Linked DNA regions of Homo sapiens: region 2 is linked to region 1. A link means that fine-mapping ties the variant in region 1 to the expression of a gene that starts in the linked region. Tissue or cell type: whole blood. Region 1 holds a variant in brackets; the other region holds the start of a gene. All regions are shown on one strand. Distances are from middle to middle.

Region 1 (7,720 bases):
ACAGGGTTTCACCATGTTGGCCAGTCTAATCTCAAACTCCTGACCTCAAGTGATCCGCCTGCCTTGGCTTCCCAAAGTGCTGGGATTATAGGCATAAGTCACCACACCCGGACTGAAGGCAGGATTTGATGCCATGCCTTTTGGGCCCCAGAGCCCAAGCTTGGCCACCCCACCAAGCCACCCCCCAGCACAAATGGAAGACATTATTGTTATCCCGAATGTCATAGTTGGTTTTGTTGTTGTTGTTGTTGTTTGTTTGTTTGTTTTTAGAGACAGAGTCTCGCTCTGTCACCCAGGCTGGAGTGCAATGGTGCGATCTCAGCTTGCTGCAACCTCTGCTTCCCGGGTTCAAGCGATTCTTGTGCCTCAGCCTCCCAAGTAGCTGGGATTACAGGCACGTGCCACCACGCCGGCTAATTTTTTTTTTTTTTTTTGAGACGGAGTCTCGCTGTGTCGCCCAGGCTGGAGTGCAATGGTGCGATCTCAGCTTGCTGCAACCTCTGCTTCCCGGGTTCAAGTGATTCTTGTGCCTCAGCCTCCCAAGTAGCTGGGATTACAGGCACGTGCCACCACGCCGGCTAATTTTTTTTTTTTTTTTTTGAGACGGAGTCTCGCTGTGTCGCCCAGGTTGGAGTGCAATGGCTCGATCTCAGCTCACTGAAACCTCCACCTTCCAGGTTCAAGTGAGTACATGCCTCAGCCTCCCGAGTAGCTGGGATTACAGGCACACACCACCGTGCCTGGCTAATTTTTGTATTTTTAGTGGAGACAGGGTTTCACCATGTTGGCCAGGCTAGTCTCAAACTCCTGAGCTCAGGTGATCTGCCCGCCTCGGCCTCCCAAAGTATTGGGATTACAGGTGTGAGCCACTGCACCCAGCCTGAATGTCGTAGTTGTAAGTAATAATGTCCTGGTGTGACTGCCCCTCCCCTCCCTGGCCACAGCCTTGGCTGAGTGAGGCCAGTGGGGGTCATGGGTGACCATCCTTGTCCCCGGCAGGTCCTTCGAGACTGTGTTCAATGCCAGTGGGCTGCAGGCCCTAGTGGCCCAGTATGGGGACTGGTTTTCTTATGACGGGAGCCCCCGGGCCCAGATCTTCCGGCGGAACCAGTCACTGGTACAAGACATGGACTCCATGGTCAGGCTGATGAGGTAGGTGCCAGTTGGGTGGTGGGTTGGGGAGAGGGAGGCCGCAGGAACACAGAACTTCCTGTGCGCTTTTTGTACCAACTCATTCAAACTTTGCTGCCAGCCCCAGAGGGCCAGCAGGGGGTGGTCAGATGTTGGACACCAGTGCAGCAGCTCGGTGGCCGCTCTCCACTTGGGCCCTGTCACTGTCCTCATAGCTAAGGGGAGGATGCTAGACATCTGTTGAGTGACCTGTACTGCTAGGCACTATGCTTGGTACCAGGAGCAACAGGTAGAAAACCTGTGCCCCACTGTCCTGTCTCTTGGGCGGTGCAGAAATCCATCAAGTTCTTGCACTGGTGTCAATGTGTAAAGATGGCTGTGTTCCAAGAGAGGCTATCCAGGAACAAACGGGTGCCTCACCTGGCTGGGGTGGTGGCATGGAGGCCTTCCCTGAGGATGAGTGCCTGAGCAGAGAGCTGAATAATGAAGGCAGAGTGACTTAGGTGAAGGGGTCCGGGCCCCAGGCAGAGGAACTGTCGGGGGTAGTGTGCAGTGGGAGGGGCTCATCAAGTTGAAGGCTGGCAGCTGTTAACGGGGCTGCCTGTGAGGATTTTGGCCCCCGTCTTAGCCTCTCCTTCCTGGGATGACTGATGTTCCCTCCTTTTCCCCATCCAGGTACAATGACTTCCTCCATGACCCTCTGTCACTGTGCAAAGCCTGCAACCCCCAGCCCAATGGGGAGAATGCTATCTCCGCCCGCTCCGACCTCAACCCGGCCAATGGCTCCTACCCCTTCCAGGCCCTGCGTCAGCGCTCCCATGGGGGTATCGATGTGAAGGTGCTGCCTCCTCCCTAGGGCCTGAGCTGTGGGTGGGGGAAGTCACCATCACCAGCTTTGGGGAAGGGACAGGTTGGGGCAAAGCTGATGGCGGGGCAGGAATCACAGTCGGAATTGGGCTGTGGTTGGGGTCACAGTAAAGGTGACAGTATGGGCTGGGCACGGTGGCTCATGCCTGTAATCCCAGCACTTTGGGAGCCCAAGGTGGGCAGATCACTTGAGGTCAGGAGTTTGAGACCAGCCTGGCCAACATGGTGAAAACCCGTCTCTACTAATAATACAAAAATTAGCTAGGCGTGGTGGCGGGCGTCTGTAATCCCAGCTACTCAGGAGGCTGAGGCATGAGAATTGCTTGAACCCGGGAGGCAGAGGTTGCAGTGAGCCAAGATCACGTCACTGCACTCCAACCTGGGTGACAGAGCAGAGACTCAAAAAAAAAAAAAGTGACAGTTCAGAATTGGGCTCTGGGGTCAAGGTCAGGGTGGGAGGCTGGGTGCCTGGATTGGGGCAGGCCAGGACCCCTGCTCAGCTGCGGCTCTGCCCTGTCCCCAGGTGACCAGCATGTCACTGGCCAGGATCCTGAGCCTGCTGGCGGCCAGCGGTCCCACGTGGGACCAGGTGCCCCCGTTCCAGTGGAGCACCTCGCCCTTCAGCGGCCTGCTGCACATGGGCCAGCCAGACCTCTGGAAGTTCGCGCCTGTCAAGGTTTCATGGGACTGAAGTTCTGTCCCTGCTCTGCTGCTTTCGCCCCTGCTGACCCTCGTCAGGGTCACCCCCGTCCCAAGGCCACCGGACTTCTAACTCCAGCCCCTCCTGGGGGCTTCGTTCTCTGATCTGGGGTCTGAGTCATCTCCTCCTAGAGTGGGTCACGAACCTGATGGGGCTCAGAACTGACCCCCTCTCTCCCCCGAGGTGGGTGGGCACCGTGGCGTCTCTTCTGCCCTGCCCTAAATCTCCCACTCTCTGTTTCTGTCTGTTTCCTACTGCTGCTCTCTCAACCTCATTCCCACCTCTGGGGCCCCTTCCTCGTGCTTCTCCTTCCTGAGGGTTTGGGAAGGTCCTGGGGCAGACTCTGGGGCTCCCATGGGGTGGAAGGAGCCTGTTCCAGCACCCTTCTCCCAGCTGCATTCCCACGGGTGGCCCTGGAGCTGGTGAGCTTTGTCTGGGCGTTGTCTTCGGCTGGCATTGCTCCTCCCAGCTCTGGCCCCTCTGCTCCCTCAGGAAGCAGTCCCCTCGTCTCCCTTTCTGGGCAGCTTCCTTGAGGACAGAAACTTGAAAACAAACACAAACCAAAGTTTCTGGCCATCTGTGGCTGGAGGGTTCTGAATGTCCTCTCTCCATGTCAGGCAGAGGGTCAGCCCCCATGCTTCTGCCTCAGGCCCCACCCCACCCCACCCCAGGCCTGCCCCTCACCTCAGGGCCATACCCACAGCGCCCTGATGGAGGAACCAGACCGCAGGCTGTGCCACCATTAAACAAGAGCGGCTGTGGCCCCATGCTGTGCT[T/G]CTTGGGGTGGCAGGGAAGGTGGGGTCAGCGCTTTTTCTCCTCTCAGGTTTGGGTTCTGCGCCATCCCCCATGCAGCCTCCTGTGCAGCCCTCTGTCTGTCCTTCTGTCCATTCATTCATCTGCCAACATACTCACCCATCATCCATCTGCACAGCCTTCCACCCACCCATCCGTCTTCCATCATCCATCCATCCATCTACCTATCCATTTATCATCCATCCACTCACCCATCCAACCACCCATCCAACCATTCAGCCATCTCCATCTGTCCATTTTCTTTCTTCTTCTTTTTTTTTTGTTTTTGTTTTTTCTGAGTGGGAGTTTCACTCTATTGCCCAGGCTGGAGTGCAATGGCATAATCTCTGCTCACTGCAACCTCTGCTTCCTGGGTTCAAGCGATTCTCCTGCCTTAGCTTCCCAAGTAGCTGGGGTTACAGGCATGAGCCACCATGCCTGGCTAATTTTGTATTTTTAGTAGAGACAGGGTTTCACCATGTTGGCCAGGCTGGTCTCGAACTCCTGGCCTCAAGTGATCCGCCCGTCTTGGCCTCCCAAAGTGCTTGGATTACAGATGTGAGCCCCCGCACCTGGCCTCATTTGTCCATTTTCCATCCACTTACCCACCCACCCATTTACTCATCCAGCCATTGACTCATCCATCCACCTATGAGATCAGACAGGGAGGGATCCTTTTTTGTATTGGTCTGTATACCACAGCATGGCTTACGAAGTTCTTATCTATCTATCACCCATCCACCCACCCATTTATCTACCCACCCATTCATCCACCCACCCATCCAACTACCTATCCATTCATCCATCCACCCATCTGCCAACGCATCCATCCATCCACCCACCCAATCATCTACCCACTCACCTATCCACCCATCCACCTACCTATTTGTCACCCATCCACCCATCCATCCATCCAATCACCCATCCAACCATCAATCCAACCATTTTCATCTGTTCATTTTCCATCCATCTACCCGTCCACCCATTCACTCCTCCATCCACCTACCTATCCATTTATCACCCATTTACCCATCCATCCATCCATCCTTCCAACCATTTATCCACCCATCCAAACATTTCCATCTGTTTTTCCATCCATCTACCCATCCACCCATTCACTCATCCATCCACCTTCCTATCCATTTATCATCCATCTACCCACTCACCCATCCATCCAACCTTCCAACCATTTATCCACCCATCCAACTATTTCCATCTGTTCATTTTCCACCCATTTACCCATCTACTAATTCACTCATCCATCCACCTACCTATCCATTTATCATCCATCTACCCACTCACCCATCCATCCATCCTTCCAACCATTTATCCACCCATCCAACCATTTCCATCTGTTCATTTCCATCCATCTACCCATCTACCCATTCACTCATCCGTCCACCTATCCATTTATCACCCATCTACCCATCCATCCACCCACTCATCCATCCATTCATCCATCCACCCACCCACCCGTCCATCCACCTACCTATTCATTTATCACCCATCCATCCACACACGGGTCTGTGCAGATTCATTAATATCCACCCATGCATCCATATTTATCTATTTTCTATCCATCAGCCATCCATTCATTCATATCCATCCATCCATCTATCCATCCAGATGTTTATTGAGCACCTGTGTTCTGGGTCCTATTTGGGAGCCTTGTTAACCACCAAGACCTTCCTAAGCCATATTGTGGTATACAGACAGATACAAAAAAAAAGGCTCTCTCCCTGTCTGATCTCATGCAGCCTGCCTTGGAGACAAGACTCTCCCAGTGCTGTGTGCTTGGAGAGAGGAAAGCACACAGCCCTGGAGTCAGAGACCTGGGTTTCAATTCTGTCTCCACCTCTTATTAGCTAGCTATGGACTCCTCTCTGAGCCTCGATTACCTCATCTGTGAAATGGGGTAATGGTGTGAGCAGCGTTTCCCTGGGGGATGTGATGCAGCCCACTTGGGGCCTCATGCACTCAGCATCTCTTTATTAGCAAACACTTATTGAACCCCTAGTACATGCCAGGCACTGTTATGAGGTCCCGGGGATACTTTATAACAAAAGGGACAGAAGCATTCCTGCTCTTGTGAAGTTTACATTGACTAGATAGTAAACAAAATAAATGAAATATGCAGTGTGTCAGTGCTGGTAAACCCGTGGAGAAAATAAAGCAAGGTTGGGGTCTGGGGTTGGGAATTGACTTGTGGTTTTATCTTATTTTCCTTTTTATTTATTTATTTATTTTTTGAGACGGAGTCTCACTCTGTCGCCAGACTGGAGTGTAATGGCACAATCCCGGCTCACTGCAACCTCTGCCTCCTGGGTTCAAGTTATTTTTCCTTTTTGTAGAGACAGAGTCTCACTGTGCCAACCAGCCTGGTCTTGAACTCCTGGGCTCAAGCGATCCTCCCACAGGCGTGAGCCACTGCGCCCAGCCCTGAGTGACTCTTAAACTTCAGTTTGAACTTGGGGTCATCCAGAAAGTACCCTGAGGGTGGGGTTCCCTCCATGCTCTGGAGCCAGCCCCAGTAATTCCTCTTTGATCTATGATACGGGCTTCAGCATATGCTTTTGTTGGAAGAGAGGGCTCCATGTTTGAGGAGGGTTTGCATGACATTGACTTCAAGTCCACCCACCCTTTCCCTCTCCCAGAGATGGGTGTCCAGTGTCAGCTCACACACGCCCAGGGGAGGGGGCCTCACTTCTTTGCTTCCATTGGGTCTGTGATGAAATAATTCTGACTTAGTAGGAAGGACTTCATATCAGAATGAAGTTGGCCTCCCCAGCTGCTTCTGCCTTCAGCGGAGGCAGCCTTTGTCCCACCCCAAGTCCCTCTTGTTTAGCCACCTGCTTCCTGTGGTACAGGGATGCCCCTGTCCTGGCATGCAAGACTAGCTGGAGTCAGGCTCCTGGCCTCACTCTGGGGCCCCAGTTGAGAGCTGGGGCTGAGAGCAGACTTGGGGTGGAAGGAAAGCAGGAAAGGAGACAGCTGATGATGGGAAAATGCACAGGATCTTTGTTTCATAAATATATTTTATTTTTCAATGAAAAAGTTTGCACATTAGAAAAATTAGTAAGGGTCAGGGGTGGGCTTCCTGGGAGGATGGCTGAGATGGTTCCTCAACCCTGGTTGGTGGCCCTGTTGACCTTCACTGGGAACAAGTTCAGGGGCGAGGTCACAGCTTTGAGGAATTCCTCACTGCTGTGATTCAGGTCTCTCCTGTCCACCCTGCTCTGGGTACCTGGTGTGTTACTTGTGGGCACTTGTCACGCCAGCAAGTTGGCTAAGGATGGGCACAGAGCAGTCACACAGATACCAAAAAGGTCCAATTCATAGCCTCGCTGGCTGCCGACCTTTGGCCTCTGCATAGTGGGCTCCTGATAACAAGAAGTTAACCTGCACCCAGGCCACAGGTGCTCAGCCAAACATACGACGAGGCGCTGGATAAAACTCCAGCCCCTCCAGGGGTCTCTTGGGCTAGGAGAGCACAGATCGGTAAGGGGTCCGTCCTCACTTGGGCAACCTATTTGTCATGCCCAGCTGTTCCTTGAGCGCCCGCAGCTGGGCCAGGCTGATGTTGCTGCCCCCGCAGACGATGACCACGAGGGATGGCAGCGGGGTTCGGAGATTCCCCTCCAGTTGGAGCTTCTGGATCACGTGGCTATAGACAGCGGCCAGGGCTGCCCCGCAGGCGGGCTCCACCAGGATCTTCTCATCATCTGCCAGAGAAGGGGCGTGACAGGGGCGTGGCCTGAGTTTCCCAGGGTGCACAGGAGCTGACAGGCCATTGGCAGGACCTGGGAATACTGAGCCAATCAGCTCTCAGCCCTGGCTGCAGCCGCAGGTCCTGAACCAAACGTCCCGTCATCGGCCTGAATTGGCCCTTCCAAGCCTGAGCCAGGGCCTGGGTTTCATCATGAGTGCTAACACTGATAGAATGAGTGTGGTTGCGTGAGCACTGTGTTGAGAAGGATTCTGAGGCATCATCTGAGCAAGAGTTCCATGGTTGATTAGCCAAGTGTGCAGCAGGTACAGAAGCATAAATGGTACTATTTTTTTCTCTCTTTTTTGCCATCCCTGCCCTAGACGGAACCCAGAAAGAGTCCAGCCTAGTTACAGACTCACCTCTGAATGAATCAAACTCTGAGCCCCATGTTTTCCTTTTTTTACCCTGGCTGCCAGGAAACTCAGAAGCAACATTTTAAATATTCACTTATTGTTTTCTGC
Region 2 (7,720 bases), 32 kb before region 1:
TTACAGGCATGAGCCACTGTGCCCAGCCTCTTCATTCTCTTTTTTTTTTTTTTTTTTTTTTGAGATGGAGTCTCACTCTGTCACCTGGGCTGGAGTGCATTGGTGTGATCTTGGCTCACTGCAACTTCCGCCTTCTGGGTTCAAGTGATCCTCCTGCCTCAGCCTCCCGAGTAGCTGGGACTACAGGCGCCTGCCACGATGCCTGGCTAATTTTTGTATTTTTAGTAGAAATGGGGTTTCCTCATATTGGCCAGGCTGATCTTGAACTCCTGACCTTGTAATCCACCCGCCTCGGCCTCCCAAAGTGCTGTGATTACAGGCGTGAGCCACTGCACCCGGCCTCATTCTTTTTTATAGCTGCATAGTATTCCATTTCCCAGCTGTTGTGTGGTTTATTTAATGAAGCTTCTATGTATGGGCTTGAAAGTGTTTCCAACAGTTTAAAATTACAAACAATGCTGCAATAAATAACCTTATGGATAAATACTTAGAGGTGGGATTGCTGGGTCAGAGGTAGATGCCCTTGGTGTTTTGTTAGACATTACTCTTCCTGTCTTTTGCATACCCACTAGCAACGTGCATGTGCCTGTTTCTCCAGGCTCACCAACAGGGTATGTTGTCAAGCTTCTAAACTTTTTTTTTTTAATCTCATAGAAAGAAATGATATCTCAGTGTAGTTTATTTAAAGTTTTTTTTTTTGTTTTTTTTTTTGAGAGGGAGTCTTGCTCTGTCACCCAGGCTGGAGTGCAGTGGTGCGATCTCAGCTCACTGCAACCTCCGCCCCCGGGGTTCAAGCGATTCTCCTACCTCAGCCTCCCGAGTAGCTGGGATTACAGGCATGCTGTAATTTTTTTTTGTATTTTTAGTAGAGACGGGGTTTCACCATCTTGGCCAGGCTGGTCTTGAACTCCTGACCTCATGATCCACCCGCCTCGGCCTCCCAAAGTGCTGGGATTACAGGCGTGAGCCACTGTGTCCGGCCCTAAAGTTTTTGTTTTTGAAAACATGTACTCTTTATCTAGTTTCTCCCAGTGATAACAACTTATGTAACCAGAGTATAAATATCAAAATCAGGAAATTGACTTTGATATGGAACTTTTTTTTTAACTTTTAAAAATTTTTTGAGACAGGGTCTCACTCTGTTACCTAGGCTGGAGTGCAGTGATACAATCTCAGCTCACTGCAACCTCCGCCTCCCAGGTTCAAGCAATTCTCGTGCCTCAGCCTCCCGAGTAGCTGAGATTACAGGCGTGTGCCACCATGCCCAGATAAATTTTTTTTGGATTTTTAGTAGAGATGGGGTTTCACCATCTTGCTCAGGCTGCTCTTGAACTCCTGAGCTCAAGCGATCCTCCCACCATGGCCTCCCAAAGTGCAGGGATTACAGGCATGAGCCCCCGAACCCGGCCTGATATGGTACTTTAAATTACAAATCCCAGCACTTTGGGAGGCCATGGTGGGAGGATCGCTTGAGCCCAGGAGTTTGAGACCAGTCAAGCAACAAAGTAAGACTCCATCTCTTCAAAAACTCAAAAAAATTAACCAGGTGTGGTGGTGCATGCCTGTAGCCCAGCTACCTAGGAGACTTAGGTGAGAGAATCACTTGAGCCTGAAAGATTGAGGCTACAGTGAGCTATGATTGCACCACTGCATCCCAGCCTGGACGACAAAGTGAGACCCTGTCTCAAACCCAAGAAAACAAAAATCAAAAAACTAAATTACAGACCTTATTTCAGCAGTCTTTACATGCACTCTATTTTCACTGTATATTTCTTACTTCTTCTCCTTCTCCTTCTTCTGGACAGAGTCTCACTCTGTCGCCCAGGCTGGAATGCAGTGGCATGATCTCGGTTCACTGCAACCTCCACCTCCCAGGTTCAAGCGAATTTCCTGCCTCAGCCTCCCCAGCAGCTGGGACCACAGGCACATGCCACCACCCGGCTAATTATTTTGTATTTTTAGTAGAGATGGGGTTTCACAATGTTGGTCAGGCTGGTCTTGAACCCCTGACCTCACGTGATCTGCCTGCCTCGGCTTCCCAAAGTGCTGGGATTACAGACATGAGCCACTGCACCTGGCCTCTTCTTTTTTGAATGGTTAAGTATAGAGTTTGTTTTCACCCGAAGATTGAGGTTGGGCACTTAGGAGCATCGCTTCATGTTACCCTGAATGTACCATTCAGGGTATACGCTCTCTCACCATATATTTCTCTGAATGTTTATTTTCAGTGTAGCTTTAATTTGCATTTCTCCTATAGTGAATGAAGCAAGCATTTTTCATAAATATAATGGTCACTTCTACATCTTTGTTCATGAATTATTTGCTGATGCTTTTTGCCCATGTTTTCTGTCTGGTTTTCACATTTTCCTTCTCAAACCTTTTCTTTCTTTCTTTCTTTCTTTCTTTCTTTCTTTCTTTCTTTCTTTCTTCCTTCCTTCCTTCCTTCCTTCCTTCCTTCCTTCCTTTCTTCCTTCCCTTCCTTCCCTTTCCCTCCCTCCCTCCCTTCCTTCCTTCCTTTTCTCTCTCTTTCTCTCTCTCTCTCTCTCTTTCCTTTTTGACAACTTCTTGCTCTGTTGCCCAGGCTGTAGTGCAACTCACTGTAGCCTCGACTTCCTAGGCTCAAGCAATCCTCCCCCCTCGGCCTCCCAGTAGCTGGGACTGAGGCAGAAATTAAAATAATAATAATAATAAGTACTACATATATTCACTCCAAGAGAAGTAAGAGCTAAGGCCCAGAATGTGGCAAGGCAAGGGTTAAAAAAGAAGAAGAACAAGTTTTCCTCTGCTTAGCAGCTCACTTCAAGGACAGTTATAAGATAACGCTGTCCGAAAAGCCAAGGCCAGAGGACTGGGCTCCAGACCCCGCCCTCCACCCCACCGCCCGCCTCCAGAGCAAGGTTGAAGGAAAAAAAAGAGAGAAAGACAAATTATTTTATTGCTATTCCTTTCCTTGGTCTCTTAAGCATGACTATGTTTTACAAACCTCTCTATTTAGCCAGTTCTTGTTTTACTTTTGATGCAGCTACAAGGCCACCAGCTATGCAAGGCCACAAGTTATGCACTATATGATTAACTACTTTTGTTTTACCTTTCTAAGCTTGCTTATAAAAACCCCACAATATCTTTGTTCTAGGCTCAGCTTTTTGGATGTGAATCCACTGAGCCAGTGCGTACGTTGAAATAAACATCCTCCTGTTCTCTCATATTGGTCTCTCCGTTCCTCAGTTTCCCACAACAGGACTACAGGTGTGCACCACCAAGCTCAGCTAATTTTTATATTTTATAGAGACAGAGTCTTGCCAGGTTTCCTAGGCTGGTCTCAAACTCCTGGGCTCAAGCATTCCTCCCACCTTGGCCACCCAAAGTGCTGTGATTACAGGCATGAACCACTCACCTGGCCTTCCCTCTCAAATTTTAAGAGTTCCTGATATATTATATGATATATGTTGAGATATATATACATATATATATGTAATGTATATATATGATATATGTTGCAAATAGTTTCTCCTGGTCTGTCAGATGTCTTTTGACTTTGCTTATTGAGTTTTTTGACATGAAAAAGTTAAAAAATTTATACAGTCAAATGCATTAATCTTTTATTGCATCTAGGTTTTTTTTTTTTTTTTTTTCTTTTGAGACAAGGTCTCATTCTGGTTGCTCAGGCTGGAGTGCAGTGGTGCAATCTCGACTCTCTGCAGCCTCGACCTTCCGGGCTCAGGTGATTTTCCTACCTCAGTCTCCCGAGTAGCTGGGACTATAGGCGCGCCTCACTGCGTCCGGCTACTTTTTTGTATTTTTAGTAGAGACGGGGGTTTCACCATGTTGCCCAGGCTGGTCTTGAACTCCTGAACTCGCCCGCCCTGGCCTCCTGGAGTGTTGGGATTACAGGCGTGAGCCACCGCGCCCGACGGCATCTAGGTTTTGAGTAGTAGTTAGACAGCTTTTTCCCACACACATGTAAAAAGGGTATTTGAGGGACAATGGGAAAAGTTGGAATAAAGACTGCATTAGATAACTGTATTAAATAAATGGCAAATACCATTAAATAAATCTGGCCGGGCGCGGTGGCTCACCCCTGTAATCCCAGCACTTTGGGAGGCTGAGGCAGGCGGATCACCTGAGGTCAGGAGTTCAAGACCAGCCTGGCCAACATGGCGAAACCCCGTCTGTACTGAAATTACATAAATCAGCTGGGCGTGGTGGTGCGCGCCTGTAATCCCACCTACTCAGGAGGATGAGGCAGGAGAATCGCTTGAACCCGGGAGGCGGAGGTGGCAATGAGCCGAGATCGCGTCACTGCACTCCAGTCTGGGCGACATATGGAGGTTTTGTCTTGTCTCAAAAAAAAAAAAAAAAAAAAACTTGGGGAAGTGTGCTAAACCGGGTTTGCGTAGGTGGAAGGGGCGGCCGGGCTCTTTAAGGTGGGTCCCGCCCCGTAGGCCTCCCCTCGCGCCAGCCCCTCCCATCCCGGAAAGGCTCAGCCCAAGCCCGGCCCCGCCCGCCCTCGGCCCCGCCCATGGCAGAGCGCAGTCACGTGACCCGGGCTGCGGGGCGCAGCATTGTGCGGTCATGGTGGGCCAGATGTACTGCTACCCCGGCAGCCACCTGGCCCGGGCGCTGACGCGGGCGCTGGCGCTGGCCCTGGTGCTGGCCCTGCTGGTCGGGCCGTTCCTGAGCGGCCTGGCGGGGGCGATCCCAGCGCCGGGGGGCCGCTGGGCGCGCGATGGGCAGGTCCCTCCAGCCTCCCGCAGCCGCTCGGTGCTCCTGGACGTCTCGGCGGGCCAGCTGCTTATGGTGGACGGACGCCACCCTGACGCCGTGGCCTGGGCCAACCTCACCAACGCCATCCGCGAGACTGGGTAAGGGTTGGCTTATCCCCACGCGGGGCCATCGGGGGAGGGGGATGCGTGGGCGCCGGACCTCGCCTGTTCCCGGGACCGGCCTCTTGCCGGGTGGGAACGCCCGTTTCTCTGGGGGTCAGCTACTCCCGAGGCTGCAGCACCGCCCTGCGGGCCAAGTACCCTGTTTGGGAGCTGGCTACTGCGGCATCCCTCACCTCATGGGGCCAGTCCCTTGCCTTCAGCCAGTGGTGACAGTACTTCTGTCCCCAAGAAGCCAGTTCCCTACCACCGAGGCCGCAGTGCCTGCATCTGGATCAGGTCCATGGCTGGTGGGTAAATTCTATCCTCACGGGGACCTGCTCCCTTCCCTAGACTTTGCCTCCTCACCCCATGGAGGCCAGCCCCCTGTCCCCAGGCCTGAGGGGTGATGAGAACTCAGCAGGAGACTAATTCTTACCTGCTTGGCTGTGGCTTGCTCGTGGGTGCCAGCACCCTGCCTCCCTTCCAGTGCCAGGTCAGCAGGACTGAACCTGGGTTCCAGGCTAGTCCAAAAGCAGAGGGTCCCTAAAGTCACATAGACCCATTTAGTATCCTGCTAGGGCTCTGCTCCTCCCTTGTCTTCTGTGTCCTGGTCCAAGGGGAAGTCCTTGGCTGGATGCCGTGTTTGGCAGCCATGCTCACCATCTTTATTGCTGGAACCCAGGCTGTCATTCTGATGTGTGAGTCTCACCTAACTCCTCCGCCTGTCTGGGCTCCCGTTTCCCCATCTGTGGCCCAGATTTTGAGGATGTGCTCTAGTTGGGTGGTCATGTGCTGCAAGTTCTGTACAAGGGCTTGTGCCCATTCATTTATTCATTACCCTGATGGTTGGCCTTAGGGACACAGCTGAGCAGCTGTCTCTACTCAGTGGGAAACACAGACAGCGATAGAAGAGAAATCAGAGTCAGTGGGAGTGGGAAGGATCAGCTTCAAAGCCTTGTCAGCAGGGCCCAGACGCTGGATCAGGCTGTGCTGGGGGATCCTAGGGAACCCGGGGTGCATCCGTCATATCCTAGTGTCCAGATGATGCTAGGGAACCCTAGCACTAGGATGTGCCCAGGATGTGGTCTGTGCTCAGACCACACTGCCCCCTGCAGCAGAAAGGGCCTCCTCCCACTTTAGCCCCTATCCATTTTACTGGCATCCATTGGCTTCTGCAGGTGTTAGGGAGACACAGGATGCCGAGGACACCCCCATTCTGGTGGCACTTGGGGGGTACATCAAGTAGACGTGAGATTTGGGGGAGATATTTGCACAGACACAGGGGCACTGGTTGGGGTAAATCTGGGAAGGCTCCCAGAGAGAGGAGGCCACAGAGTGAGCTGGCATCTGTGGAGGGAACTGAAGCTTTGTGGCTGGCCTCGGGGGCTGCCGGGACTCTTGGATCTGGTGACCCGTTCTTTGCTGACTCACTCATGTTTTTGGCCCTGCATAGCAGAATCAAGAGGACATGACAGAACTGTTCAGGCGAGGAGGGGCAGGAGCGAGGCCCAGCATGGGGAGGGGGCTTTGGCCTCTGGAGGCCCCTCCTGGGCTGTGTTGCTCTTGACTATGGTAAACATGGAAGTGGAGAGAAGGCTTCCTTGATTGTGCTGGATGGAAAGTTCTTCCAGGCTCAGCCCCTCTGCTGTGTGACCTTGGGCAAATCCCTTCACCTCTCTGAGCATGTTCCCTCATATCAAGGTAGGACCAAAAGGGTCATGGAAATTCACTGGGGTCACAGAAAGCACTGTTTATTTATTTTTATTTGTATTTTATTTTTTGAGACACAGTTTCACTCCGTTGCCCAGCTGGAGTGCAGGGGCACGATATTGGCTCACTGCAACCTCCCCACCCTGGGTTCAAGCGATTCTCGTGTCTCAGCCTCCCAAGTAGCTGGAATTACAGGTGTGTGCCACCATGCCCGGCTAATTTTTGTATTATTAGTAGAGATGGGGTTTCACCATGTTGGCCAGGCTGGTCTCAAACTCCTGACTTCAGGTGATCTGCCCATCTTGGACTTTCTGGCTTGTTTTCGGCACCCTCTCTCATCCCCTCCTCTTACGCTCACATGCCCCTTTCCCTTTGAGTTTGCCAGCCCTTGAGGCTCTGATGCAGGGAAAACCATAAAGCGAGCCCCATTTTATAGGCAGGAAACTGAGGTCCTCAGAGACAGCTGCTTGAGGACTCAGGGTCAGATGAAAGAAAGCCATAGGGGGTGTCCTGGCTCCTGATCAGCAGAATCTCTGATCTGTGGGGGACTCTGTGTCTTATTTCGGAGGGTGGGGGCAGGGATTTGATGCCTCTGTTCACTCAGAATTAGGATCCTCCTCCTTCCTGGTGAAATCCCCAGATTTTGCCACTGGGGATCCTGGGATTATCAGGATAAATTCTCCCTACACCATAATCCTTCGTCTTTTTTATTTTTTAAAAAAGGTTTTTTTTTTTTTGTTTTTTTTTTTTTTTTGAGACAGGGTCTCCCTGTGTTATCCAGGCTCGAGTGCAGTGGTATGATCATGGCTCACTGCAGCCTTGAACTCCCAGGCTCAAGAAATCCTCCGACCTCGGCCTCCCAAGTAGCTGGGACTATAGATACGCACCCCCATGCCTGGCTAATTTTTAAATTCTTTTTTTTTGTAGAAACAGGGGTCTTGTCATGTTGCCCAGGCTGGTCTTGAACTCCTGGGCTCAAGTGATCCTCTCACCTTAGCATCCCCAAATGTTGGGATTACAGATGTGAGCCACTGTGCTCGGTACCTTCTTTCAGTTGTGCCATATCTTGACTTTGGGCCAACACCCCCACACAGCCTGGAAACATTTATGATTTGGTGCTTGGAGATCAGAGATGTCACTAGGAG

Evidence for each region. PIP is the estimated chance that this variant, and not a neighbour inherited with it, causes the effect.
Region 2: PLBD2 starts here. The variant in region 1 is fine-mapped to the expression of PLBD2 in whole blood (INTERVAL, PIP above 0.99).

What each region holds. Positions count from the first base shown.
Region 1 is chr12:113,385,938-113,393,657 of GRCh38, forward strand. PLBD2 (phospholipase B domain containing 2) reads left to right here. Exons shown (of 12, transcript NM_173542.4): 10 at 1,000-1,152; 11 at 1,807-1,969; 12 at 2,522-5,692. The coding sequence ends at 2,689. SDS (serine dehydratase) reads right to left here. Exons shown (of 8, transcript NM_006843.3): 8 at 6,508-7,212. The coding sequence ends at 7,004. Among named protein-coding and RNA genes, the nearest start is that of SDS, 14 kb to the right of the region's middle. RefSeq lists an enhancer at 7,277-7,476. The variant T/G (reference allele first, on the strand shown) is at 3,475.
Region 2 is chr12:113,354,029-113,361,748 of GRCh38, forward strand. It overlaps PLBD2 (phospholipase B domain containing 2), which reads left to right and starts at 4,559. Exons shown (of 12, transcript NM_173542.4): 1 at 4,559-4,862. The coding sequence starts at 4,573. It overlaps LOC105369989 (a long non-coding RNA gene), which reads right to left and starts at 5,482. Exons shown (of 3, transcript XR_945346.3): 1 at 5,302-5,482. RefSeq lists silencers at 4,373-4,872, 4,923-4,982 and an enhancer at 5,318-5,817.